7 linked regions of the Homo sapiens genome follow. The protein of the gene in region 7 purifies or fractionates together with the protein of the main gene of each other region. This does not show direct contact. Each region holds a gene or a part of one and is shown on either strand. Other genes may lie near its edges. The genes, in order: USP6NL, SWAP70, BASP1, PLEKHA1, KIDINS220, SEPTIN6 and AXL.

Evidence for each region.
Region 1: the proteins of AXL (region 7) and USP6NL purify together in Homo sapiens (affinity purification with mass spectrometry; one large-scale study listed by BioGRID and IntAct). This does not show direct contact.
Region 2: the proteins of AXL (region 7) and SWAP70 purify together in Homo sapiens (affinity purification with mass spectrometry; one large-scale study listed by BioGRID and IntAct). This does not show direct contact.
Region 3: the proteins of AXL (region 7) and BASP1 purify together in Homo sapiens (affinity purification with mass spectrometry; one large-scale study listed by BioGRID and IntAct). This does not show direct contact.
Region 4: the proteins of AXL (region 7) and PLEKHA1 purify together in Homo sapiens (affinity purification with mass spectrometry; one large-scale study listed by BioGRID and IntAct). This does not show direct contact.
Region 5: the proteins of AXL (region 7) and KIDINS220 purify together in Homo sapiens (affinity purification with mass spectrometry; one large-scale study listed by BioGRID and IntAct). This does not show direct contact.
Region 6: the proteins of AXL (region 7) and SEPTIN6 purify together in Homo sapiens (affinity purification with mass spectrometry; one large-scale study listed by BioGRID and IntAct). This does not show direct contact.

What each region holds. Positions count from the first base shown.
Region 1 is NC_000010.11:11,608,851-11,612,957, forward strand, and holds the start of USP6NL (USP6 N-terminal-like protein), read right to left. Parts: upstream 2,801-4,107; 5' UTR 2,593-2,800; exon of another isoform or gene 2,451-2,592; intron 1-2,450. UniProt on the Homo sapiens protein: Acts as a GTPase-activating protein for RAB5A and RAB43. Involved in receptor trafficking. In complex with EPS8 inhibits internalization of EGFR. Involved in retrograde transport from the endocytic pathway to the Golgi apparatus.
Region 2 is NC_000011.10:9,723,077-9,726,576, reverse strand, and holds part of SWAP70 (switch-associated protein 70), read right to left. Parts: intron 1,920-3,500; coding exon 1,692-1,919; intron 1-1,691.
Region 3 is NC_000005.10:17,269,631-17,273,130, reverse strand, and holds part of BASP1 (brain acid soluble protein 1), read right to left. Parts: intron 1-3,500.
Region 4 is NC_000010.11:122,426,708-122,429,776, reverse strand, and holds part of PLEKHA1 (pleckstrin homology domain-containing family A member 1), read right to left. Parts: intron 2,836-3,069; coding exon 2,746-2,835; intron 1,696-2,745; coding exon of another isoform or gene 1,631-1,695; intron 1,520-1,630; coding exon of another isoform or gene 1,397-1,519; exon of another isoform or gene 1,357-1,396; intron 154-1,356; coding exon 1-153. UniProt on the Homo sapiens protein: Binds specifically to phosphatidylinositol 3,4-diphosphate (PtdIns3,4P2), but not to other phosphoinositides. May recruit other proteins to the plasma membrane.
Region 5 is NC_000002.12:8,778,614-8,782,113, forward strand, and holds part of KIDINS220 (kinase D-interacting substrate of 220 kDa), read right to left. Parts: intron 1,202-3,500; coding exon 1,061-1,201; intron 527-1,060; coding exon 283-526; intron 115-282; coding exon 26-114; intron 1-25. UniProt on the Homo sapiens protein: Promotes a prolonged MAP-kinase signaling by neurotrophins through activation of a Rap1-dependent mechanism. Provides a docking site for the CRKL-C3G complex, resulting in Rap1-dependent sustained ERK activation.
Region 6 is NC_000023.11:119,648,169-119,651,668, reverse strand, and holds part of SEPTIN6 (septin-6), read left to right. Parts: intron 1-1,570; coding exon 1,571-1,732; intron 1,733-3,500. UniProt on the Homo sapiens protein: Filament-forming cytoskeletal GTPase. Required for normal organization of the actin cytoskeleton. Involved in cytokinesis. May play a role in HCV RNA replication.
Region 7 is NC_000019.10:41,236,223-41,239,722, reverse strand, and holds part of AXL (tyrosine-protein kinase receptor UFO isoform 1 precursor), read right to left. Parts: intron 1,780-3,500; coding exon 1,569-1,779; intron 1,254-1,568; coding exon 1,114-1,253; intron 560-1,113; coding exon 409-559; intron 30-408; coding exon 3-29; intron 1-2. UniProt on the Homo sapiens protein: Receptor tyrosine kinase that transduces signals from the extracellular matrix into the cytoplasm by binding growth factor GAS6 and which is thus regulating many physiological processes including cell survival, cell proliferation, migration and differentiation.

The sequences.
Region 1 (4,107 bases), on a different chromosome or scaffold from region 7:
TAGACCAGTTGAGAATCCAAGTCTCTGTCGCTCCAATTCCCATGCTTAAATCTCATGTACTACATGGACGTGTGCTACAAGTTGGATTTCTTTTCAATTATTATTCTTACAGTGACTTCCACTGTAAATACAGGAGTCATCTGTTCAAGGGAAAAATGAGTCTCTCAATATAATGAAATCATATCTGACAATGGACTATGCTTTTCTTTTCTTTTCTTTTCTTTTTTTATTTGAGACAGAGTCTCACTCTGTGGCCCAGGTTGGAGTGCAGTGGAGCGATCTCCGCTCACTGCAACCTCTACCTCCCAGACTCAAAGGATTCTCCTGTCTCAGCCTCCCGGGTAGCTGGGATTACAGCAGTGCACCACTACCGCCCAGCTAATCTTTGTATTTTTAGTAGGAACGGGGGTTTCAGCATGTTAGCCAGGCTGGTCTTGAACCCCTGACCTCAAATGATTCATCTGCCTCGGCCTCCCAAAGTGCTGAGATTACAGGCATGAGCCACTGCAACCCGCCAGTCTATGCTTTTCAAAAATCACATTGAAGGAACAAACTATAACTTTCTGGTAATTAGAGGTCTGCATTGCACTAGTTACAAAGTAAGAATGGTTAAAAAAAATCGTTACAGTGAAATTGTGAACATAAACCAGAATTGTAATCACTTGTCTCGTTCTCGCTACCTCAAGTGGCAATTCCCAAAGCTATCCTATTCTACTACATTAACATTCCTCACACTTTCTAATCAGAGTAATTTTGTTTGTTTTCAGTTTGCTACTAGCTTGAACTCATTGGCCTCTTTTTCACCCATCTTAGCTGGCTACAAAATGTAACAAGGACTTGACACACATGGGCACATGGTGGCAAAGATGGACCAAGGCAACCCTTGCTTGGCATTGGAGACTCAGGTTGGATCTGCTGGGGTGAGTAGTTCTCTTGGTTCCCTATAACGCCAGAGGATGATCAATCACCTAACAGTGCCAAATCTGACACTTTCACTTACTGGCTTGTTTAACCAAAGTCAGTCCCCAGTAGGAGCTATTTGCATGTCAAAACATTATTAAAACTGGTAATGGACTAGTCTTACCAGAAACAAGTACAACAAAGAGTCTGGCTGCATAGCTAAAAACTAAGTAGGCACCAAAACTGAGGCTCAGGGCCCAAATTCTTAATATTTGGCAAAGGATGTTTCTTTGAGTGCCTTTGTAACAACTCATTAATTCTCTATATATATATAATCAGCAAAGGAATTTCTGTTAACTAAGGATACCTGTACTTGCAATTAGGATTTCTTCCTTTAAAAGTTAACTTATACTTTTATTAGTATAATTTTTTTTCTATTTGGACATTTTAATTGTCTACGTAGAATACAACATGGCATCAACATCCATTTTAAGTAATGAACTACACTATGTTTACAAATGTTGTTATAAAAGAATGGCAAACCAGGAAATATTTTTGTTAATTTTAGGGTCTGACTGAACCAGAAATAAAAGCAAATAAACCACTGTTCACTTGCTGCTGGCTAATTTATTCTTATTCAGATGACTTCAGGAAAGAAAAAAGAACACTGACTTCCCCCTGAAGGAACTTGCCAGAGACTCAATATAGGAGGGAGTTGGCCAGGGTGATCTCTAAAGTTCTGTGTAACTTTTCTAAGCTATGAAATATTAAATATCTATCCCAAAGGTGTAATTATTTTTATAAAAGGATTAATACAGGATTGAAACCATTTTCTTTCAACAAGCAACATACTTAAGACGGCGTCCTCACTTTTTTTTTTTTTTTCCATTCGTCTCGCACTATTTCCAATCACTGGGTACGGCCCTAATTCAACAAGCCTTCCCAGTCCAAAGAAGGCATGCTGAAGTCTACGGTCTAAAAAGCATCTATCTGCGGATTAAATGTTGGGAAAGAAAGGGATAAGGGTTGGGGGTGGGGAGAGACAACATTTTCAAATTACAGAAACGTGCACCCATGGATTCCTACGCGTCCCGCATTTTCTAGCAGTAAAACACCTGCGAGGAACCGTTTTCACGCATTACAAATGCCGCACCAGCCTAGGGTTGTGAGCGCCAAACTATTTTGCAAACTTTGCAAAGGCGCACGGATTTCCAAGACTTGCAGATCTCTCATTCGCCCCATCCTCCCCTCGCCTGGTCCAAACAAAGTTCCGCGGCATCAAGGCAGTCATTTAAAGGCACGAAGTTTGCCCGGGTCCTGCCCACTGGGGCTCGGGAGACGCGACCGAAACTTGCGAGGGAGACGCGCCTGGCCGGGATCGCGGCTCACTCGGGGAGGCAGTCGCCGGGTTCCACCCCCGGGCCTCCCCGCACCCCGCGCGGCGCCCCCAGCCCGCCCATCGCCCCGCGGACCCCACGCTCCGGGCGCGGGGACACACAGGCAGCCCCCGCACTGTGCCCGAGCCGCCCCCCAGGGCCGAGCCGCGAACCGCAGCCGCGTCCCCTCCTCCAGGGGCCGGGAATGGCGGCGTCCGGCTCCCCGGGGCCAACTCCGAGTCCCGGCCCGGGGAGGACGCCCGCGGAGCCCGCCGCCGCCGGCCCCTCACGGCGGGAGCTGAGGAATGGAAGTTACCTCAGTACGGTCCCGACTGCTAGGCTGTGGGCAGCGGACAGAGCTGGCGGTCCCGGGCGGCCGAGCAGATCCGGCGCGGCGCGGCGCGGCGGCGGCGGCGGCTACCGCAGTGCCCTCCGCCCCATTGTTTCCCTTCCAAGAGGATCCCGGCGAAGCCGAGCCCGGGAACCAGGAAGTTCCCCGGCGCGACACCTCCTGCCGCCGCTATGGAAACGGCCCCCGCCTCCCAGGGCGGCTCGCCCGGGACCCCGCCTCCGCGCCTCCGGCCCCGCCCGCCTCACCGGCCGCCGCCAACCGTCACCGCAGCGGCCGCAGCCGCCGCCATATTGGCGCGGCCCCTTCCCGGCGGCACGTGCGCTCCGCTCCCGCACTCCCGCCGTGCGCGCTCCCGCCCGCCTCGGGGACGCGCGCCCAGGGCTGCAGGTGCCCGGAGCCCCTCGGCGGGAAGCGGGCGCTGGAAGCCCAGGACCCAAAGCGGGGCTTCGGGGCACGCAAACGAGCGACATTGGCGTGTCCAGCCGGCAGGTCAGAGGATAGCAGAGACGTAGGGAGGTCAGCTGAGTAGGGGGCGAGAGGATGGTCTCCGGAGCCAGCCTGGCTTTTTTTTTTTTTTCATTTCTGCCTCAACTACTTACCAGGTGTCAGCCCTTGGACACTTTTCCCTGTGCCTCAGTTTCTTCATCTGTAAAGTGGAATGATAATAGGACCTGCCTCATGGGGCTGTCCTGGAACAAGCGAGTGCTTGGTAGTAAGTGCAAAGCTCAATAAAATGCCATTGCTACTGACATAGGTGACACTGCTGTCATTTTTCAGGAACTTAGGCTAAGCGTTCACATCAGCACTACTTTAAGTAGGCTACTGTGTAGATCCCATTGCTGCTTCAAGCTTCTCAAATGTTCATCACTGTCCCATCTTTCTGTAGGTCAACTTTCCTTTTTTACATCGTGGAAATTGTCAAGAGTTTTAATCTCCAAAGCCTCCCATTAAGGGGTGCCATAAAAAGATGAATGATGTAAACTTCCCAAAGCCGTAATTAGCTGACAGTTAAATGATTGATTCAATCGAAGCTAGAAAAGTTAGGGTGTACAAGTAACCAAAAGGCTTCCTGTCCTTGATTCCAGGAACTAGAATTACTGAACCTGGCAACCCTGCACTGTGCCTTTTATCTCTCTTTTCCAGCTGGTGAAAACTGACACGAAGAAACTGAATGCTGCGCCCAATATCTCACAGAAGGGGTGGAAGGAGGAGGCAGGGTCACAGGCTCTTTGCTAGCACCCAAACTTTGAGAACTGTGACTCAGATTAGGTTTGGTCTCTAAGGCTCCTTCTAGCTCTCAAGTGTGGTAATCTTAACGACAGGGATACCCAGCAATACAGTCTGAGAAATTCATCCTTAGGCAATTTCGTGATTGTGCGAACATCATAGAGTATATTTACACAAACCTAGATAGTAGAGCCTCCTACACACCTAGGCTATAAGGTGTGACTTATTGCTCCTAGGCTACAAACCTGTTCT
Region 2 (3,500 bases), on a different chromosome or scaffold from region 7:
GGACATTTAAGCAAAAGCTATCTCATACGGCAATTCTACTACAGTCATATCCTGCCATCCTAAGAGGCTGAGAATTCCACTTCAGATGGAGACCACGTCTCATACCTCTTTGTAGCACCAAAAACCTATACAAATTCAGCCTCAACATTTATGATGTGCTCCATTAGGAAAAAAAAGAACAAAGACAACACTATTACCTATGGAAGAAAGAAAGGATCAAAGTAAGGAAATCCCAAATCAGTTATTATTCAATATAATAATGTAAGAAGTTTCAAAGAATCACCAAAAAAATATAAATTGTATTTAACAAGCATCGAGCTTCATCTGCTATGCTGGGTGCTGAGAAAAAGAGGACAGTCTAAATAAGACAAAAGCAACTTTGCTACATAAAGGTATTTTTTTTTCCACAAGTAGAGGTATTTTTCTGATTTTATAAAAATAATATAAAATCATATAGAAAGTCCAATAATACAGAAAGGAATAAAGAAGAAAAAAATTCACCAAAATCCCACAATCTAGAGGTGATCACTGTAAACATTTTAGCAAGCACCTTCCTGACAGCTCTACACACATGCATAACATTACCTGAAGGGGATTACAAGATATCTCCTGTTCAGCAATGTGGTTTTTTTTCACTCAACGTTATGCCATGGAGATCTTTCTGGATCAGTGGTTATGAATTTCCAAAATAAAATATTTTGGAAATGGCCTGGGCGCGGCGGTTCACGCCTGTAATGCCAACACTTTGGGAGGCCAAGGCTGGTGGATCACAAGGTCAAAAGATCGAGACCGTCCTGGCCAACCTGGTGAAATCCCATCTCTACTAAAAATACAAAAGCTAGCTGGACGTGGTGGCGCACACCTGTAGTCCCAGCTACTCAAAAGGCTGAGGCGGGAGAATTGTTTGAACCCGGGAGGCGGAGGTTGCAGTGAGCCAAGATCATGCCACTGCACTCCAGCCTGGTGACAGCGTGAAATTCCGTCTTGGAAAAAAAAAAAAAAAAAAATATATATATATATATATATATATATATATATATATATATTTTGTATTTTTAATACAGACAGGGTTTCAACATGCTGGCCAGGATGGTCTTGAGCTCCTGACCTGGTGATCCACCCGCCTCAGCCTCCCAAAGTGCTGGGATTACAGGCATGAGCCACCACGTCCAGCCAAAATATATATATATATTTTAACTGTATTCTTAACTGTACTTTAAAATCGCACAAATAATTTTTTTTAATGAAAGCCTAATACAAGACTGGAAAAATAAGAAATTTTATTCCTATTCAAAATCAGGCCAGGCCCAGTGGGTCACACCTGTAATCCCAGCACTTTGGGAGGCCGACGTGGGTGGATCACTTGAGGTCAGGCATTCGAGACCAGCCTGGCCAACATGGTAAAACCCCATCTCTACTAAATATACAAAAATTAGCTGGGCATGGGGGTGCATGCCTTCAAGGCAAGAGAATCCCTTGAACCCAGGAGATGGAGGTTGCAGTAAGCCAAGATCACGTCACTGCACTCCAGACTGGGCGACAGAGCAAGACTGTCTCAAAAAAACAAAAAATAAAAAAACGAAATCAGTGTAAGAAAATAAGTGACTTATACTCATCTTTGTGACAAAAATATTAATTTTAAAATGTCAAATTCTAAAGATGAGAAAAAAAAACAGTAACAGAATTCTTACCTGCTTTAACACATCTAATATAAGTTCATTAAAGACTTCATTAATTGCCATAGACACAGTCTGCCGGTCCATGCCTTTGCTAAACTGTCCATTTCCAATAAGCTCAATAAGTTCCCATGCAGAAAGGCCATTTTTACTGTCATCAAAGTTGATTTTATAATGTTCAAATTGTTCTTGCTGCCAACCTCCTCCCATAGCTTCTGTAAGCTTCTTAAGCAGGTATTCAATCTACATAAAGAATGTGAAATAATTATTTCCTAGTTAAAAAAAACTTTAACATAGTTATGTATTTATGTTATAAACACTGATAAGTTCAACTTAGGAAATACTCTTTACAGTTCCAAAAATGCCTACCTTTAGAGTCTCCTAAAATACAGGGAGAGAAGTATAAATAAAATGCCACTGGTCTGTATTAGTGCAGAATAAGTAAAGGAATCAAAAACTGATAACCCTCTAATAGTGTAGTATATTTGTCTGCAGAACTAAAACAAACTGCAGATATATGACAGCATACAAACTAATTAATGTGATCTGATTACTCGCTGTTAAATATTTCAATATATCAGAACATTAGTCTTACTCAACAAACAAGCGCTAAATTAAACATCTCAAAGTAATATGTACAAGTTATTGATCAATTTACAAACTTTCCACATAAGCCAATTATTTAAAATTCATGCTGCTTCCTCCCACTGGAACACTACAATGTTGTAAATAATGGTGGAATACCTAGCATGAGCAGGAAAAGCTTACTAAATCCTAAAACATCATACTTTGTGTAGAAAATACTGCTATTGAAATAATAGCAGTTAGGCCAGGAGCAGTGGCTCATGCCTATAATCCCAACACTTTGGGAGGCCAAGGCAGGAGGATCACTTGAGGCATGGAGTTCAAGACCAGCCTGGCCAACATGGCGAAACCCTGTCTCTACTAAAAATACAAAAAAGTTAGCCAGGCATGTGGCGCACACCTGTAATCCCAGCTACTCAGGTGGCTGAGGCATGAGAATCGTTTGAACCTTGAAGACAGAGGTTGCAGTGAGCGGCGATTGTGCCACTGCACTCCAGCCTGGGCAAGAGCAAGACTCTTGTTTCAAAAAAAAAAAAAAAAAAAAGTAAAGAAGGAAAGAAATAACAGCAGTTAAACAAAACAATAAGGCAGTAAAACTGAATGAGAATTGATACCTCTTATTTTCTGGAAAGCCCAAATATCCTATACAGTGCTCTCAAACTCAACATATGTCCAAAAATGAATGAATCCTCTCTACTTTCCAAATGGCTTCCCCGCTGTATTATTGATTTCCATTAGGAATAACACCATTCACACATCCATGTCAGGATTCTTGCTCCCCAACCCCCACATCAAACCAAGGATATAATCCTGCTGTTTTATTTCCCTAAATGAGCTCCCTAATAAGTTTGAAAACTGTGGGTTATGGCCCACTATGAAGTCAACTTAGTGGGCAGCAACCAGCATTTTTTTTTAATGGAATGAAAAACATGTGAGTTCATCCACAATAAAGAAATAGTGTTTTGTGATAAGTTTTGCTTTGAGTGTGTGTGTGTGCTGGGTCATGATATAAAATGTTTATCTTCCTATGGGTTGCAGTGAAAATAAAATTTAAAACTTTGTCCCAGGCAGCTCTGAACTCTGTCACTCCTATTTGATCTGCTTTTGGTCGGGCCTCCTGGTTGGTATCTGTACCTCCAGGTCGCCACCTTTTATACATATTCTGCCAGAGGGATTTTTCTAAAACAAAAGCCAGAGCCTGACCCTCCCCTCTTTAAGCCCTGCCCTGGCTCCCTATCA
Region 3 (3,500 bases), on a different chromosome or scaffold from region 7:
GCTCTGATATTTCAAAATACATTGGGTCCCTTAGGTTGAGCTAAATAAGAAACAGGAAACCTAACAGGTCTGCCTTTAGGATCTTCTCTCAATCCAGTAATAGAAACCCATACACCAACTTAGAAATTACAGACACTAAGATAAAGTGCAAACATAGGGGGTCCAGTAAGTATAACATGGGGTGCTGCTTTCTGACACCCACAGCATGAAATTCTATACAGCAATCCCCAGAGGTTTAAAGTCATGTTGGGTTACAAACCTAAAATCTGAGTTACTAAAACTGGCTTTTCTGACACATAGTTAAGGCCACATTCTATTCTTTGTTTTATGCCCAGCTGCGATTTGTTTCTGGGTCGAAAATGAACACACGTAATCAAGTTATAAGTAAGAAAATATGTCTCAATCCAGTTTGTTTTTCAAACAAAGTTAACAAACGCCCCTGGCATTTTGCTAATTTACCTCTACTGGTTATATTGAGGTATCAGAGGGACGCTCATAGGACCCACCTGAACCCTCGAAAAGCAGGATTGTCTCATTATTTCCCAAGACCATATGCGTGAAGACCTTGCCTACAACATCTATTAACTGTTTCCTAGGTATCAAGCACAATCCTACTCATAAATATATTACATAAAATATGTAATCTCAACAGCACCATGGGGTAGTATGCCATTCACATTCTCCTTTTACCCATAAGGAAATCCTACTAGCTGAGTTCGTGGAGCTGTACTATGAGCAAAGGCCAAGTCCAGCAAAATTCAGTAAGGCAGGAAGGCACCACAGAGGGGATAGAAGGAACTCCACTGAGAAGCCGGCAATGGGGCAAAGCTCTCAGCCCAGGAATGTTATGCGCCTGGGTTACAAGGATGGTGCCACCTGGGGTAGTTCAGAACTCAGGTGTTGAGGGAATAAGGAAGAAATTCAGTATTTTGAGTATCCTCTGCCTCTCAACATTTCATCTTCCTATTTGCCAGAGAAGCTTTTTACCAAGAGAAAGCAATGAGCATACAGTTTAATGATTTCATTCTTTTTCTTTTCTTTCTTTTTTTTTTTTTTTTTCTTGAAATGCAGTCTCAGTCTGTCACCTAGGCTGGAGTGCAGCAGCAGCACAATCTCGGCTCACTGCAACCTCCGCCTCCCAGGTTCAAGCAATTCTCCTGCCCAGCCTCCCGAGTAGCTGAGATTACAGGAGCCTGCCACCATGCCCAGCTAATTTTAGTATTTTTAGCACAGATGAGGTTTCACCATGTTGGCCAGGCTGGTCTTGAACTCCTGACCTCAGGTGATCTGCCCACTTCGGCCTCCCGAAATGCTGGGATTACAGGCGTGAGCCACCATGCCCAGCCGATTTCATTCATTTCTGTTACTTCTAATTTTGAAAGACATCATTTGGTATAGAAAGTTAGAAGTTGGAACTTCTAAGATTAAAATAAAGCAGTTAAAAAAATACAGCAATAGACAATCCATGCTGAAAAGTCACTTCAACTAAAAAAGTCACTAAACCAAAGCTCTACTGAAAAGGCCGAGACTGACTTTGCATTTCTCCACAACTAGGAAATTCACTAGAATTTTGTAGCACAGCAACAAAATTCAGACCAATGCTGAAGGCACTGACCTCAGTTCTATGTGTTTATGTATTAACCAAACACTAAAACTGACCTCTGTTATGACATCTCAGAAAAAAGCTAATTCTGGAGCTGTCCTTTAAAGACCGGGTGTGGTGGCTCACACCTGTAATCCCAGCACTTTGGGAGGCCGAGGTGGGTGGATCACTTGAGGTCAGGAGTTCAAGATCAACCTGGCCAACATGGCAAAACCCCGTCTCTACAAAAATTACAAAAATTAGCCAGGCGTGGTGGTGCACACCTATCATCCCAGCTACTGGGGAGGCTTGAGCCTGGGAGGCAGAGGTTGCAGTGAGCCGAGATCAGCCACTGCACTATGGCCTGGGCAGAGTGAGACCCTGCCTCAAAACAAAACAAAGCAAAACAAAAAACAAAAAGCAAACAAAAAAGCTGTCCTTCAAAGAAAACTCGATGCCACAAGGGCGAAAATGACAGGCTTACCGATTAATATTGGCATAGAAAATAACCATAAACAGTAGTAGAGAGAGGAATTTCACTGAGTTTAATCTGGTAAATATTGGACAAGAATTGAATTTCAAGGAGACTTTGCACATTGGGTCATGGCAGAGTATAAAAATCCCACCTCCACAGCACACCCACCCAGAATCCTTGGGCAAGTTATTTAATCTCATCGTCCTTCCGTTTCCTTTAAAATAAAAAAATTTTTTTAAATGTCAATTTAATGGGAATTTAATGTGAGGCCATGTGAGTACAACATTTTACATTTCCAGGGACTGCAAAAATGTTAGTTCCTTCCCCCATCATTTAGTTTGAAAATTCTTAGATAATTCTTTGCTGGTAAATTCCAACAGAATAGTTAGCACACAGGTTCCACACACACAAGTTCTAGAATCAGGAATCTGAAGCACCACAATGAAAAGAACATTTAACATCTTTTAAAAATGTTTAATGTTATCAGAAAGATGTTTGGTATATGTGTTCCATGCATGCTCCTGCTGGTTCTATTTGAAAAAGAAGTTTTTACAGTTATCTGTTGTCACCATATTGTAAAGGTAAAATCTCTACTTCTTCGCTCTGAATATTTTACTACTTAAGATTCTAAGAGGTTTTCAGTCTTTTTAAATATATTAACAGTCCATTCTGCCAAGAAATCAGTTTCTACACAGAGATAAAAACCAAAGATTAGTTAAATCCATTCCTCCCAATTAGAACGAGTATTGGAGTGATCAGAGAAAGAGAAGAGGGGGCTGTGTGTGGTGGCTCACACCTGTAATCCTAGCACTTTGGGAGGCCGAGGCGGGCAGATCATCTGAGGTCAAGAGTTGAAGACCAGCCTGACCAACATGGAGAAACCCCGTCTCTACTAAAAATACAAAATTAGCCAGATGTGGTGGTGCATGCCTGTAATCCCAGCTACTCAGGAGGCTGAGGCAGGAGAATCGCTTGAACCTGGGAAGTGGAGGTTGCGGTGAGCCGAGATCGCACAATTGCACTCCACCCTGGGCAACAAGAGCAAAACTCTTGTCTCAAAAAATAAAAATAAAGAGAAGAAATGTAATTGCATTTTTTGCTGTCCCCTCACCACCTCTTCATCACTTGGTCCAAGGAAACAAGAGAAAAGTGTTTTGATCACCAAGATGGAAAAGGAATCCCAATTCTTTTACTCATTTAATGCCTCAAATTTCACGTGTAAAGGGTAAAAACCTGGTCTACAGCTTATCTTGGCTAATAAGCTAAACACACCATGTTAATGAGAGAAGCTAACATTGTCAAATGTCATTTTGTTTTGCTACTTCCTGCAGAAGAATACTGTTTGTTTATCATATGTCAAATAGCTTAATAGAGATACTAACTTACATCTTTAAAATCCCCCACAACTATCTTGTGACTAGTTTTATTCCCTTCCACCTTATA
Region 4 (3,069 bases), on a different chromosome or scaffold from region 7:
GACCTTGGCAAGAGACTCGTAAAATCCTCGCTTCTCCATGGTAAAGGTTGAGACCAAAGAGTTGCTGCGAGAGGCTGTGGAATGTGAGGTGGCGGTGGCTGCGTTGGTAGGACGGAAAGCGTGTTTGGATTCTGAAGGACCGGGGGGATGCTCCTGCAAAAAGGAGTGGCAGTCAGACACGGTCAGTCACTCATGACCAGGTTAGTAACTCAGTGTGAGACTTGATTCTCTGAAAAACAAATAAAACACACACACACACACACACACACACACACACACACAAAGGCAGCAGCAGAAGCCATGCAGCATAAATGTGCAAGTTCTTTCCCAAAGCAACGCGTTTTTAGAGGTGAGTTTAAAGCAATGATAGCCAAAAACCATTTCCACTAGGAAACCAGTTCCGTCACCAAAGCTGAATTTGGCAGCCTATGACACTTTGAAGATTCAGCCAACCTAAACTGAAATACAGTGTTCCAGCTGCAACTGAACTGTGTTTAAAAGAGAACCTCCCAGCTGTATCATTTTATTTAAGAGTATATTCTCAGTCAACACTAGGAATTATCCCACATATTTTAGAATGAAAAAAATTAAAATATAGACTATAACAATGAAAGGCCATATTTCTTTAATAAGCACGAATCATCTTTCAAACATTATTCTGCTGATAAGACTTAGTTTTTACTTCCCTGAATTTCACTGCAACCAATAATAGCACAGTCTTTTCATTTTTTACTTAATTTTAGTTCTGAATAGGTCATATATTCATATGGCTTAATATTTTAAAGGTAACAAAGGGTACACATTTATCACATTTTAAACTGTGGTGAAATAATTAGTAGTTGAGAATGTTAATTTCAATATGCTTCTAACTAGATCAAATCTGAAAATATCCTTAAATATGACCATTCTAAATACATTGCTATATACTAGTATATTATATTCATTTATGATACCAGTGGCTTTGAAATCAAAGTGCTACAAATTACCAAAACACTACAGAGTCCTATTAGATGGCTAAATTTCAGAGATTTTTAAATGCCATGCAAACTATAGTAATGTACAGTTTATCCAATGCATATGCATGCATTAGTTTGCATATATTATTAGAACAATGGTGCATTTCGTAAGTATTGTATCTTAAAAATTTTTAAATACATAATATAAAATTGAAACTCTTGCAGCAGTTGAGTATATTAATTTTTATATGTTAATGTCTCTTTCTGTTAGTAAAGTTGTATGTTTTATTTTTTATTTTTAAATACACATATCCAACCTGATGACTACAGTGAAACAGTTTGCGTTAGTATTGACAAAATCAGTTATGATAACTGCAAAAGGCAGTTTGGTTAACTCAACTTTCTATGATCAGTTGTAAGTAGTAAGTCTGGGCCCTCCACTAAGAAGGCACGTTTGCGTGAGAGCCCACATACGTGCTGCATTCACCAGCTCTTGATGTATACCTCTGTATACAAGGGTTCGACAGCCTTCTGGCCTGCCGCATCTGGAACACAGTGCAAAGCTAAGATTAGAGTTAACCTATACTGGGTAGAGGGAGGAAAAGAGAAAGTTGTGCTGACAGTCATAGCTAGATAGTCCAATCTGCCCCCACCACAAAGCACAAAACACAAACATCCTTCTCCAACTTTTCCTCTTCCCAACAGACACTGTTTTTGCAGAGAGTCTCATACTTGACTGCTGAAAAAGTCACATAAAATACAGGCAGTTACAAAATGAACATCTATGAAAGTGACTTCTTAGATATTTCAAAAAGGATATAAAGAGAGAATGACTTAACAACTAAGAAATCAGAAACATTGATTTCTATTTATTTATCTGTAGTTATCACTACCAGAAAACTAATAAAAGGCGGTATTATAATACTATCAGAAAAAAATATTAAAAGTGTAAGTAACTAGCATATATGTCATAGTAAATCTAGATAATAAAGGCTATCATGCTACATATGAGACTACTTTCCGCAGATGGCAGTGTTACATTTTAAGATACTTTAAATTTTCAGACCTGAGATCAGTGGCCAAAGTATTCCAAATGCAAATCTAATTCTTATGTACTTGAACACAAGAAAAATCTTTTAAAAAAATATTTCTGAGCAGAATGTTTAGTTGTATTTCAATTTTATTATCATACTACCACAAAGATAATTATGGTAGTTTTCAGAAGCAGGCTGTTAAAGCAGGTTTTAAAATGAGAATTAAAACATGAAATGGAAACACTGGGAGCACTGAACTGTATTTAAGGCCCCAGCTGCTCAGTGATCTGATGGCATGGTTAAGCCAAAGGTAAAAAACAAAACAAAACCAAAAAACCTGAACTGAAATCAGAGGAAGTAAAGAGGAAATTGAGACGTTCACAAAACTGTGTAACGCTACAACTAAAAGTCTTACATGATCCTGATCACACACCATACTAAGAATCTGTCAGATTATGCCAAATCTAGAGCTACTGACAAGTAAGAACTCCTAAAACAAAGCAAGGAAATGTTTATTCTTTAGTTGCCCTACTTGTGCATTTAACACAATACAATGCACAGAAAGTTATGTATACATAATACTACAAGGAAGCATTAAATTAGAAATGCATTATTTTTTGCAAGTCCAATTGGTATAAAAGTCAACATGCAAATAAATCTCAAGAAAGAAAGAAACCGGATGGATTGGGAGAGAGGAAATTTGATAGGATGGGGGAGACGCAAGGGAGTATCACCCCAGAGAGCAGGAAACCTACAGAAGACGCAGATCTGCCGGGACCCCGCTGTGCTACAATGGCGCCAGAGACTGCTTTAATCCAACTGTGCATCTCTTCAGGGCTATCAGCCTAAAGGAAAAAAGAACTCATTCAAACAATTTTTTCTCAAAATCACCTACTTCTATACAGCCAATGTATTTATTTTGATAACTTAAAATACTGTCATCAACAAAATCACTCTAAGGCAACTGTTTCCAAAAAATTTAGAAATCATTTTTTTAAAGCCAGGTTTTGCTAGGTCTTAACTACACAGAGACATAAATTGAGCACTTCAATGTCAAGATCAGACCCATCAACAGGCGT
Region 5 (3,500 bases), on a different chromosome or scaffold from region 7:
CAGCTCGAAGCCAATGGCATCTTACCCGTCTATTGAGGGCTGTCTTGCTACCAAGTTTTGTCATCTCCCCAAGGCTGTTCTGTGAAACTCTTCTGTCAGCATCTTCCTGTATCCCTTAAATAATTTATCAAGACAGCATCACTTACACCAAAATTCTGTTGTATATGATATTTAAAGAAATGTGAAACAACAACAATATTTTTCAAGGTAAAAAGGAGAGTCGCCATAAAGAAACTACAAAACTATTTCAAACTCAAAGTACTTTAGGAGCCTGAGCTTTACCTGTAGTATCTGAGCATGGAACGTCTCCATTTGTTGCTGAAGTTACGAGAAATTTTCTTGCATTGCTTAGTCCACGACTATTAAGGAACACAGGCAAGTGGACTATGTTGCGCATGTAGTCATGGCCATTTATATTTGAATCCCGAAGCACACTATTGAGGTTCTGGTTAATTGCCTTTATGATAATATGTGGATCACTTGCAAAAATGGCAATGAACGGGCCTTTTGAAAACAGAACTCGGACCTGTGGCAGAAGAAATGTACAGTTGTGACATACATTTTAAATTGTCCAAAAGAATAAGGCATCTCTTCAAAATATGTGCTACCTTTTGGTGACAATATTTCTAAACTACTATTTCTTTTCATCAAAACTTACTCTGCACAAAAGCAAATTTTACTGACAGCTCAATCTAGGTTTGTTGTCATCTGACATAGATAAAACCTGCAAAGAAAATTAATATTGTCCTTCTTTCAGACATTTACAGTCTGCTAAAGAGGTAAATCAATGCACATGAGAAACATTCATGAATACAGATGCTCTATTCATTTTTCTCACAGTGCCACTAAGCTAAAATTATTTAAATATCTTTGTGACTAAACATTTATTCTTGCTACATTTCTGTATAAAGAATGGTTGTTTTTACAAAAGAAAAATCACAAAATAGGAACTACTCAAACAAAAACCAATTCCGTTCTATTTTTAGATATTTGTGAAGTCAAACATTCTCTCAAGTGCCACAACATAACAATGGTGGCTTTTGAGGTGGCGCAAACGTACAGTGTCCAGCATCTGAAGGACTTTGTCCTGCTCACAGGCATCTAATCCATCGATGATGACCACCAGCCTTGTCTGATTCTGAGTGAAGCTGTCAATGGTTTTTGCCATCCTGGCCATCAATTCCACTTCACATTTAAGAACCTGTATTGCAAAGGAAGGTATAGAAAGCACTGAAGGAAGATCCAAGAAGCTTAAACATATTTCTTAGAAAGCGTGATAGAAAGTCATCTAATAGGAACAGAAGACATTCAAAGTCCTTGCTGCCAGTTGTGCTTCCACTTAAAATAAGAGCGAGTGCTTCACAATTTACCAAGTGACTACACATAAATTACAGCAGCTGATCCTCAGAATGACACTGTGGGATAGACACTACCATATCTGTTCTAAAAAGAACAAACTGGGTTGAGTGACTAACTTGCCAAGATTAGAGGCTCTGAATGTGAAAAGATTCAGATCTGGATGCAAATCCAAATGATCAAAGCACTACACTGCTGCTGGCTCCCTGATGGCATCTGACCTTTCACTTTGAAAAAGAAAATCCTGTATTATTTATTTTGGTGGTTCAATTTGCTATTTTTAAAAACAGATATCTTTACTGGGCTCTAGAGGAACTTATATTATTAGACAGTAGTTGCTAACTCTTTTGAATAACTTATAAAAGTCTATTTTATAAAAACATGCTACTGTTATGATGTTTCTCACTCCAAATATGTATTTCCACTGGAAAAATCTGGAATAGAACTCAAAATAAATAAAAGGACTGCTGGTTTCTGGTTCTACATATATGTAAACACTTTGGAAGTGGCCACTCCTTGATTACGTAAGCTTATATATGTGTGTGTGTGTCTGTGTGTGTGTGTGTGTGTGTGGTGGGGGGTGTGTGTGTGTGTGTATAATGTACATATTATGTATGCTTATAAATGTAAATGAAATTAGTAACAACAATGATACAAGGGACGGGAGAGAGGAATTAGGATTATTTTGCTATTATAAGATAAACTACCTGAGAAGTGATATAGTATTACTTGAAAGTGGGCTTGGATTAGTTATAAATGCATATTGCAAACCCTAGGGCAACCACTCAAAAAAAACAGTTTAAAAAAAAGTACAACTGATATGCTAAGAAAGGTGAGAAAATGGAATCATAAAAAAATGCTCAATAAAAGCATAAAAGACAAAAAGAAGAGTAGAAGACAAAAATAGGAACAAAAATCAAGCAACAAATAGAAAACAGTAACAAATACGATAGATATTAATCCATCAAAACCAATTATCCCTTTGAGCGTCAGTGTTCTAAAGATATCAATTAAAAGAGATGTCAGAGATGATCAAAAAATAAGAGCTAATTGTATGTTATCTACAAGAAACCCACCTTACATAAAAAGACACACGTAGATTAAAAGTAAATGAATGGAGAAAGCTATACCAACACCAATCAAAAGAGAGGGGGAGTAACTATATTAATTATTATATATATATAATATATATATATTAAAGGGGGGCATTACATAACAACAAAGGAGCTGATTCTCTAAGGAGACATAATAATCCTAAACATTTATATATCTAAGAAAGGAGAATCAAAATATGTAAGACAAAAGCTGACAGAACTGCAAGAAGAAATAGATAAATCCACTATCATAGCTTGAGACCTCAATACCATTCTATAAGGACAGATGCAGCAGTCAGAAAACCAGTAAGGACGCAGTTCAGCTCAACAACACCATCAATCAACTGGCTATAACTGACACCTACACTTATTTCATCCAAAAAAAGAAAAAAAAACAGAATACACATTCTTTTCAAACTCACATAAAGCATTCACCAAGATGGACCACATTCTGAGCCATAAAACACGCCATAACAAATTTAAAATAGAAATCATGCATACAATGTCTTCCCCTCAGTGGAATTAAACTAGAAGTCAAAAACAGAACGATAATTGGAAAATCCCAAAACATGCAGAGATTTAAAAACACACTTCCAAATAACACATGGGTCAAAGAAAAAAGTCTCAAGAGAAATTTTAAAATATTTTGAACTAAATAAAAATGGAAACACAACTTATCAAAATTTGTGGGACGCAACAAAAGAACAGCTGAGAAGAAAATTTATAGCACTGAATGCATATATTCGTAAAGAAGAAAGATATAAAATCAGTAATCTGGCTGGGTGCAGTGGCTCATGCCTATAATCCCAGCACTTTGGGAGGCCAAGGTGGGTGGATCGCTTGAGCTCAGGAGTTCGAGACCAGTGTGGGGAACATGGTGAAACCCTATATCTACAAAAATTAGCCAGGTGTGGTGGCGTGTAGCCTGTGGTCCCAGCTACTCGGCAGGCTGAGGTGGGAGGATCCCTTGAGCCCAGGAGGCAGAGATTGCAGCAAGCTGGGATCGCACCACTGCACTACAGCCTGGGCAACAGAGTGAGACTCTGTCTC
Region 6 (3,500 bases), on a different chromosome or scaffold from region 7:
ACGGACTTTCACTCTTGTTGCCCAGACTGGAGTGCAATGGCACGATCTTGGCTCACCGCAACCTCCGCCTCCTGGGTTCAAGCAATTCTCCTGCCTCAGCCTCCCGAGTAGCTGGGATTATAGGCATGCACTACCATGCCTGGATACTTTTTATTTTTAGTAGAGACGGGGTTTCACCATGTTGGCCAAGCTGGTCTCGAACTCGCAACCTCAGGTGATCTGCCCACCTTGGCCTCCCAAAGTGCTTGGATTAGCAGCATGAGCCACTGCCCCTGGCCTGATATATGTTTATAGTGTGTCAATGGGGACTTGGCGAAAGTGCCAAGGAGAATAGGCTCTGCCTGCTGTTTCATCTTGGCAAGGGCTTTGACCCTTCTGCCCCTGAAAGACTTCAAGGGAGGTGCCTCCACGGTTCAGTCTTTCCTTGACCCAGCGGCTGTGTGATATCAGCCTTCAGAGGCACTCCTAAGCCAAAGCGCAGAGGAAGCAGGATTTTTCTTCCACGTCTGGAGCTCCCAGACTCCCCTTTTAGAGTCCGGGGCCTGAGTGCCACCTATGCCCCTCCCCCACCCCCCGTTGGAGTCTACTGGCAGGAATGATTATGCTCTCCATGTCAACCTGAACTTAGTGTGCTCTGTCTCACAAACACATGTGCATTTCAAGTTTCTTTACCTTCTGACAGTAAAAGCCTTGTCCCTTCTTGGAGGAATTTCAAGGATTAGGGTTCAGGTGGATTGAACTTTTGGTTGGGATTAGTTCTTTCTCCTGATGCCTGAAATTGGGCATTTATACTTGCTTTTCTTACTCAGAAATTAATCATGAGACTCAGGCAGTATAATTCTTTTTGCATAAGTCTCAGATCAAATTGTAACTATAGGTTCTTCCTCACCTAACTGAGTTGATTATTCAGTGTCTCCTGCCAGAAAGAGAGCCAGGTGTGCATCCTCACTGAGCACTGTCCCTGCCTCCTTTCCCTGCCATCTCTCATGTGGGTCCATATCACACCCGGCTTGGGCTAGACTAGACCCGATGGGTTGGGACAATTTACTCTTAGCAAGAAGAGGCCACCTCTCCCCTGTCAGCCACAGATTCCCAGCTATCACCTTTCTGCTTCAAGTCTCCCAAGCAGTAACCTTGATACCAAGATAACATACAGCTCATCAACTTGGATCTGAACTGGTAGACAGCTCATGCTTAAGACTATGGACTTAGGAATAAGGCTGAGTTTGGATTTGAATCCCAGTTCTCCTACTTACCTGCTCCATGGCCTTGGACAAGTTACTTAACCTCCCTATGCCTTAATTTCTCATTGGCAAAATAGTAGTAATAATACCTCCTGGAAGGGTTATTGTCAGGATTAATTGTGCTAATTCATGTAAAGCACTTAGTTCAGTGCCCAGCACATAGTTAGTACTTGTCGTTTATTATATTGTCATTTGGCTACAGAAGTGGCCAGTCTTTGACCACTGGGCTGAGCGGCTCCCTCTGGCAGCTGGTGGAAGTCCTAGGTCATGCTGCTATCAGTTGCAGGTTACCAACAATGACCCCACTTTGCCCCTCCTCTCCCTAGGTGAACATCATCCCCATCATTGCCAAAGCAGATGCCATTTCGAAGAGTGAGCTAACAAAGTTCAAAATCAAAATCACCAGCGAGCTTGTCAGCAACGGAGTCCAGATCTATCAGTTTCCTACAGATGATGAGTCGGTGGCAGAGATCAATGGAACCATGAACGTGAGTGGGAGCAATTTCCTGACCATTTGCTTTTTATGATGATTATCATTATTTTAATGTGCTTTAGAGACAGGGTCTTGCTCTGTTGCCCAGGCTGGAGTGCAGTGGTGTGATCACAACTCACTGCAGCCTTGAACTCCTGGGCTCAAGGGATCCTCCCGCCTTAGCCTCCCAAGTAGCTGGGATTACAGGTGCACTCACCACACCTGGCTAATGTTTTAATGTTTTGTAGAGACGGGGTCTTGCTATGTTGCTCAGGCTGGTCTTGAACCCCTGGGCTCAAGCGATCCTCCTGCCTCAGCCTCCCAAAGTACTGGGATTACAAGTGTGAGCCACCACGCTGACCCCTTTATTATTATTATTATTTTACCAAATAGCAGCAAAACATCTTCACCATCCATCTTAGTGTAGTCAACTCTTTTTTTCTTTTACTTTTTTTTTTTTTTTTTAAGACAGGATCTCATTCCATTGCCCAGGCTAGAGTACAGTGGCACAATCTCGGCTCACTGCAACCGAGATATGTTATTTTTAAATATCAGGGTTGGCTGGGCATGGTGTCTCACGCCTGTAATCCTAGCACTTTTGGAGGCCGAGGCGGGTAGATCACCTGAGGTCGGGAGTTTGAGACCAACCTGGCCAACATGGCAAAACCCCGTCTCTACTAAAAAATACAAAAATTAGCCAGGCGTGGTGGTGTGCGCCTATAATCCCAGCTACTCTGGAGGCTAAGGCAGAGGTTGCAGTGAGCCAAGATTACGCCATTGCACTCCAGCCTGGGCGACAGAGTGAGACTCCATCTCAAAAAAAAAAAAAAAAAAAAAAAAATCAGCGTTATGCTTTGCTTTATTAAGTGTGAATGAATAATAATAATAAAAAACCTTGCCATCTTTCCTCTCCTCCCCCACTTTCTCCTACTAGAGAAATGAGTAATAAAGAAGGCAGAGATGCAAACATCTCCTAATGCTTCCTTACAATGTGTTGCTGTTGCTGTGAAATCTTCAATGTTGTGATTTCAAGGAGACAGCTAATAGCTTTCAGAAAGCCTCCGCTTTAGGAACAGATTTCTTTTTCTCTATTGAGTGTCATCAGTTTTTCCTAATGACATAATGCCTGGGTATAGCCAAACTCAGGAAAGCCTTGTAATAAAAGCCATTTTTAGAAAACTTTCCTGCTGCCACTGCCCTCTAAGTTATCATTACAACTTCAGCTGCCACCTCCTATGAATTGGCCAACAAATTAGCATAGCAGGGCAGCAAGTCATTGTCTCTCCTGACTTCCTGTCCATCAGTACACCCGAGATGTGTTTGTTATCACCATCACCATCTTAGACAAATCTGGCTCAAGGGTAAGGCTATCTGGAGCATGGTAGGTAGAGATAGGTCTTCTCTGACCGGCCGTGGGCATGGAAAAAATAAAAAAGATTAGCACTTGTCCTCTCGAGAAGTCAGGGCATTTTGATGGAAACTAGGCTCTGTTATGAAGAGACAGCCTAGTCTGCAGAAAAACGGGAGCCTCGCGAGAAGTGTCATCTGGGTGCCACGGGCACTGATGTCTGGAAGCGTCTAGTCACCTCAGGACATCAGTCCCCATAGAGACCTTCTGAACACTGATGCCCTAAGTCATCAAGCAGCTTGCAGGCTTGTGGTTTGCTTTGCTAAGAATAAATAGGGACTGAGAGTACTCAGCCATCTCAAGGTGTCACACAGAACCACATCTTGGTACCTCATGGATTAGGAGTGATAATCATCCTGGGCTCTGTTCTCAGCTC
Region 7 (3,500 bases):
ACCCAGCTGGTGGACTGGCTGTGCTTGCCCTGTGAGAAGAAAGGACAGAGAGGAGATGTGCTCAGAGAGGACAAGACTGGCGTGGCACGGGTAAGGGAGTAAGGGTGTGGCACGGGTAAGGGAGTGAGGGTGTGGCACGAGTAAGGGAGTGAAGGTTTGGCACGGGTAAGGGAGTGAGGGTGTGGCACGGGTAAGGGAGTGAGGGTGTGGCACGGGTAAAGGAGTGAGGCCGTGGCACAGGTAAGGGAGTGAGGGGTTGGCATGGGTAAGGGAGTGAGGGCAGCTCTCAGTAAGGCTCAGGGTAGGAACAGGGCCTAAGTTGCGGTAACACTGAAAGGTACAAGGAGTAAGTCAGGGCTGTCAGGGAGAGACAGGGTTGAAGCAGGTTGGGCATGGCTTTGGACTTACCTGGGCGCCAGGCCTCCAGGGGTACTGGGAGGCTCCAGGGTCCATCCCCAGCAGCAGTGTAGGCTGCCACACACACTGTCAGATTGGACACAGACCCGTCCCCCTGCAGCTCCAGGGTCACCTCTTGCCTTAGCCCTATGTCCATTAGCACCTAGGAGGTCCAGAAGTGGCATCAGGGTAGAACCTTACCCCCCAGCTGTTAAGCCTTCACTCTCGGGCTCAATGCCCCATCTCTTTCTCAAAACGCTCTCCCCATCCTCCAACTCCTCATCCTTCCTCGTCCTCCCCTTCATCTCTCATCCTCATCCTTTAACCTGTATCCCTCCATCCCCTTCTAGCTTCCCTTTCCATCCTCCCTCCCTATGTCAGGGTATTGCTAGCCCTGATAGGAGTGCCTTTGTGAAAATCAGGAAAAGGTACCCCTTCCCCAAGGTGCTATATAACTATCTGCTGTAAAATCGTTATATAGTAAATATGAGTCTGCTGAAATGCTTTTGCAGTGGTTCAAAAACAGCCATTCCCCATGCCCTCCCTTAGACCCCCTTATTCTCCCCAGAATGTGAATGTGAACCTTCCCTGAATGTGCCCCCTAGGCATAGAGCAATTGTGTACTACCCAACCTTCACAACCATCTATGTCTGCCCTGATATGTTCTCCTCCCTCCTCCCCAAGCCACTCCACTCCAATCCCACCAGCAGCACCCACCTCTGGGGTGTCCTGGCCTTGATACGCCAGCCGGTACCCTAACAGGGTACCCTGCAGGGGCGCCCGGGGCTCTTGCCAATGCACGAAGGCCTGGCTCCCATTCCGCGTAGCACTAATGTTCTCAGGGGGGCCCAGGGGCACTGGAGGACAGGGAAGAGGGGAAGCTGGCACCCCCACCTCTTCCTGACCCCCTCCCCTGTTCCCAGGAAGTGGGTGCAGGGTGCCAAGGGCACACACGTGGGCAACTCGTGCAGGCCTCCCATGAGAGGAAGCACAGGGGAGAGAAGGGCTGGGAGAGAGGCCAGCGGGCAGTGCTGCTGAGGGGTCAGAGATTGGATGGGAAGGAGATTGAGGCCATGAGGGGTAAAGGAGTGAAAGGGGACAATGGGGGTGGCACTGATATAAGCAAGGTCCGGTGGGGCAGTGGTGACGTGTCCCTCCCCAACCCTTCTTACCTCCCTCCGGCGTCTCCACAGGAAGCCAGTGGGTCCAGGATGAGGGGCCCTGGCTGCTGGTGCATGCCACGCGGATGTGATAAGGGGTGTGAGGATGGAGGCTGCCTAGCCGAAGCTGATGGGGGGGCACGGATGCTTGCGAGGTGAGGGGCTCCTCTGGGGGGTCTGGTTCTCCCGCCTGGATGCCCATCCCATCGTCTGACAGCACAGCCTGAGGAGAGGCAAGGGTGTGAGGACGGGACAGCCAAGCAATCACACGAGATGGTCACACAGCTCCCAGTGGTGGTGGTCTGGTGTGACTACACAACTTTTCAAGGGTGCGTGTGTGTTGCAGTGCCATGCTAGGATAACACGGGCACCTGGATTTGCAAAGCAAGGAGATCATTTGGCTGTATACAATGTGGTTCTGTCACCACTTCCAAAAGCCACCTCTGGCAAGACTCTTCCCTCTCTGAGCCTCAGTTTTTTCCTTGGGCACACGGGGCCTTAGAGGATCAAGTGCCTTACAGGATTGTTTAAAGATTAAGTGTAGTTATGCCCAAAGGATGCCACAGTGCATGGCGGGTGGTCAGCACCGATAATAATAGTGTGATGACAATAATAACGCAAATAGACTGGGCACGGTGGCTCCCGCCTGTAATCCCAGCACTTTGGGAGGCCAAGGTGGGCGATCACTTGAGGTTAGGAGTTCAAGACCAGCCTGGCCAACGTGGTGAAACCCCATCTCTTCCAAAAATGTAAAAAATTAGCTGGATGTGGTGGCGCTCGCCTGTAATCCCAGCTACTCGGGAGGCTGCGATAGGAGAACCACTTGAACCTGGGAGGCAGAGGTTACAGTGAGCTAAGATCACACCACTGCACTCCAGCCTGGGTAACAGAGCAAGACTCTGTCTCAAATAATAGTAATGATCATCATAATAATAGCACGATACTGTGAGGCCCCATTTATATGACATTATACTACAGGCAAAAGCAATGTTCTAGAAGCAGAAGGGTGGCCATCTCTGGGGCCTGAGGGAGACTTCTTGGGGACTGGAAGGGTCTGTGTCTTGATTTGGATGGTGGTTACATGGTGAATATGTGTGTTAAACAATCTCAAAGGTGTCCAATCTTTTGACTTTCTTGGACCACAGTGGAAGAAGAATTGTCTTGGGCCACACATAAAATACGCTAACACTAACGATAGCTGATGCGTTAAAAAAAAAAATCACAAACAAATCTCATAATGTTTTAAGAAAGTTTACGAACTTATGTTGGGCCGCATTCAAAGCCATCCTGGGCCACATGTGTTAGACGAGCTTGATCTAGAGGTACACTGAAGATTATGCATGTTATACATCTCATTTCTTTTTCTTTTTTTTTTTTTTTCCTTTTTTTGGAGAGGGAGTCTTGCTCTGTCGCCCAGGCTATAGTGCAGTGGTGAGATCTTGGCTCACTGCAACCTCCGTCTCCTAGGTTCAAGCAATTCTTCTGCCTCAGCCTCCCAAGTAGCTGGGACTACGCGTACCACCACGCCCGACTAATTGCCGTATTTTCAGTAGAGACAGCGTTTCACCATGTTAGTCAGGCTGGTCTCAAACTCTTGACCTCAGGCAATCCGCCCGCCTCAGCCTCTCAAAGTGCTGGGATTACAGGTGTGAGCCACCGTGCCCGGCCTATGAGTCTCATTTCATCACCTGAGCTGGAGTGCAGTGGCGTGATTTCGGCTCACTGCAATCTCCGCCTCCCAGGTTCAGGCAATTCTCATGCCTCGGCCTCCCAAGTAGATGGGATTACAGGCGTGAGCAACCATGCTTGACTAATTTTTTTTTTTTTTTTTTTTTAGACAGAGTCTTGCTCTGTCACTCAGGTTGGAGTGCAGTGGTACAATCTCGGCTCACTGCAACCTCCGCCTCCTGGGCTCAAGTAATTCTTCTGCTTCAGCCTCTCGAG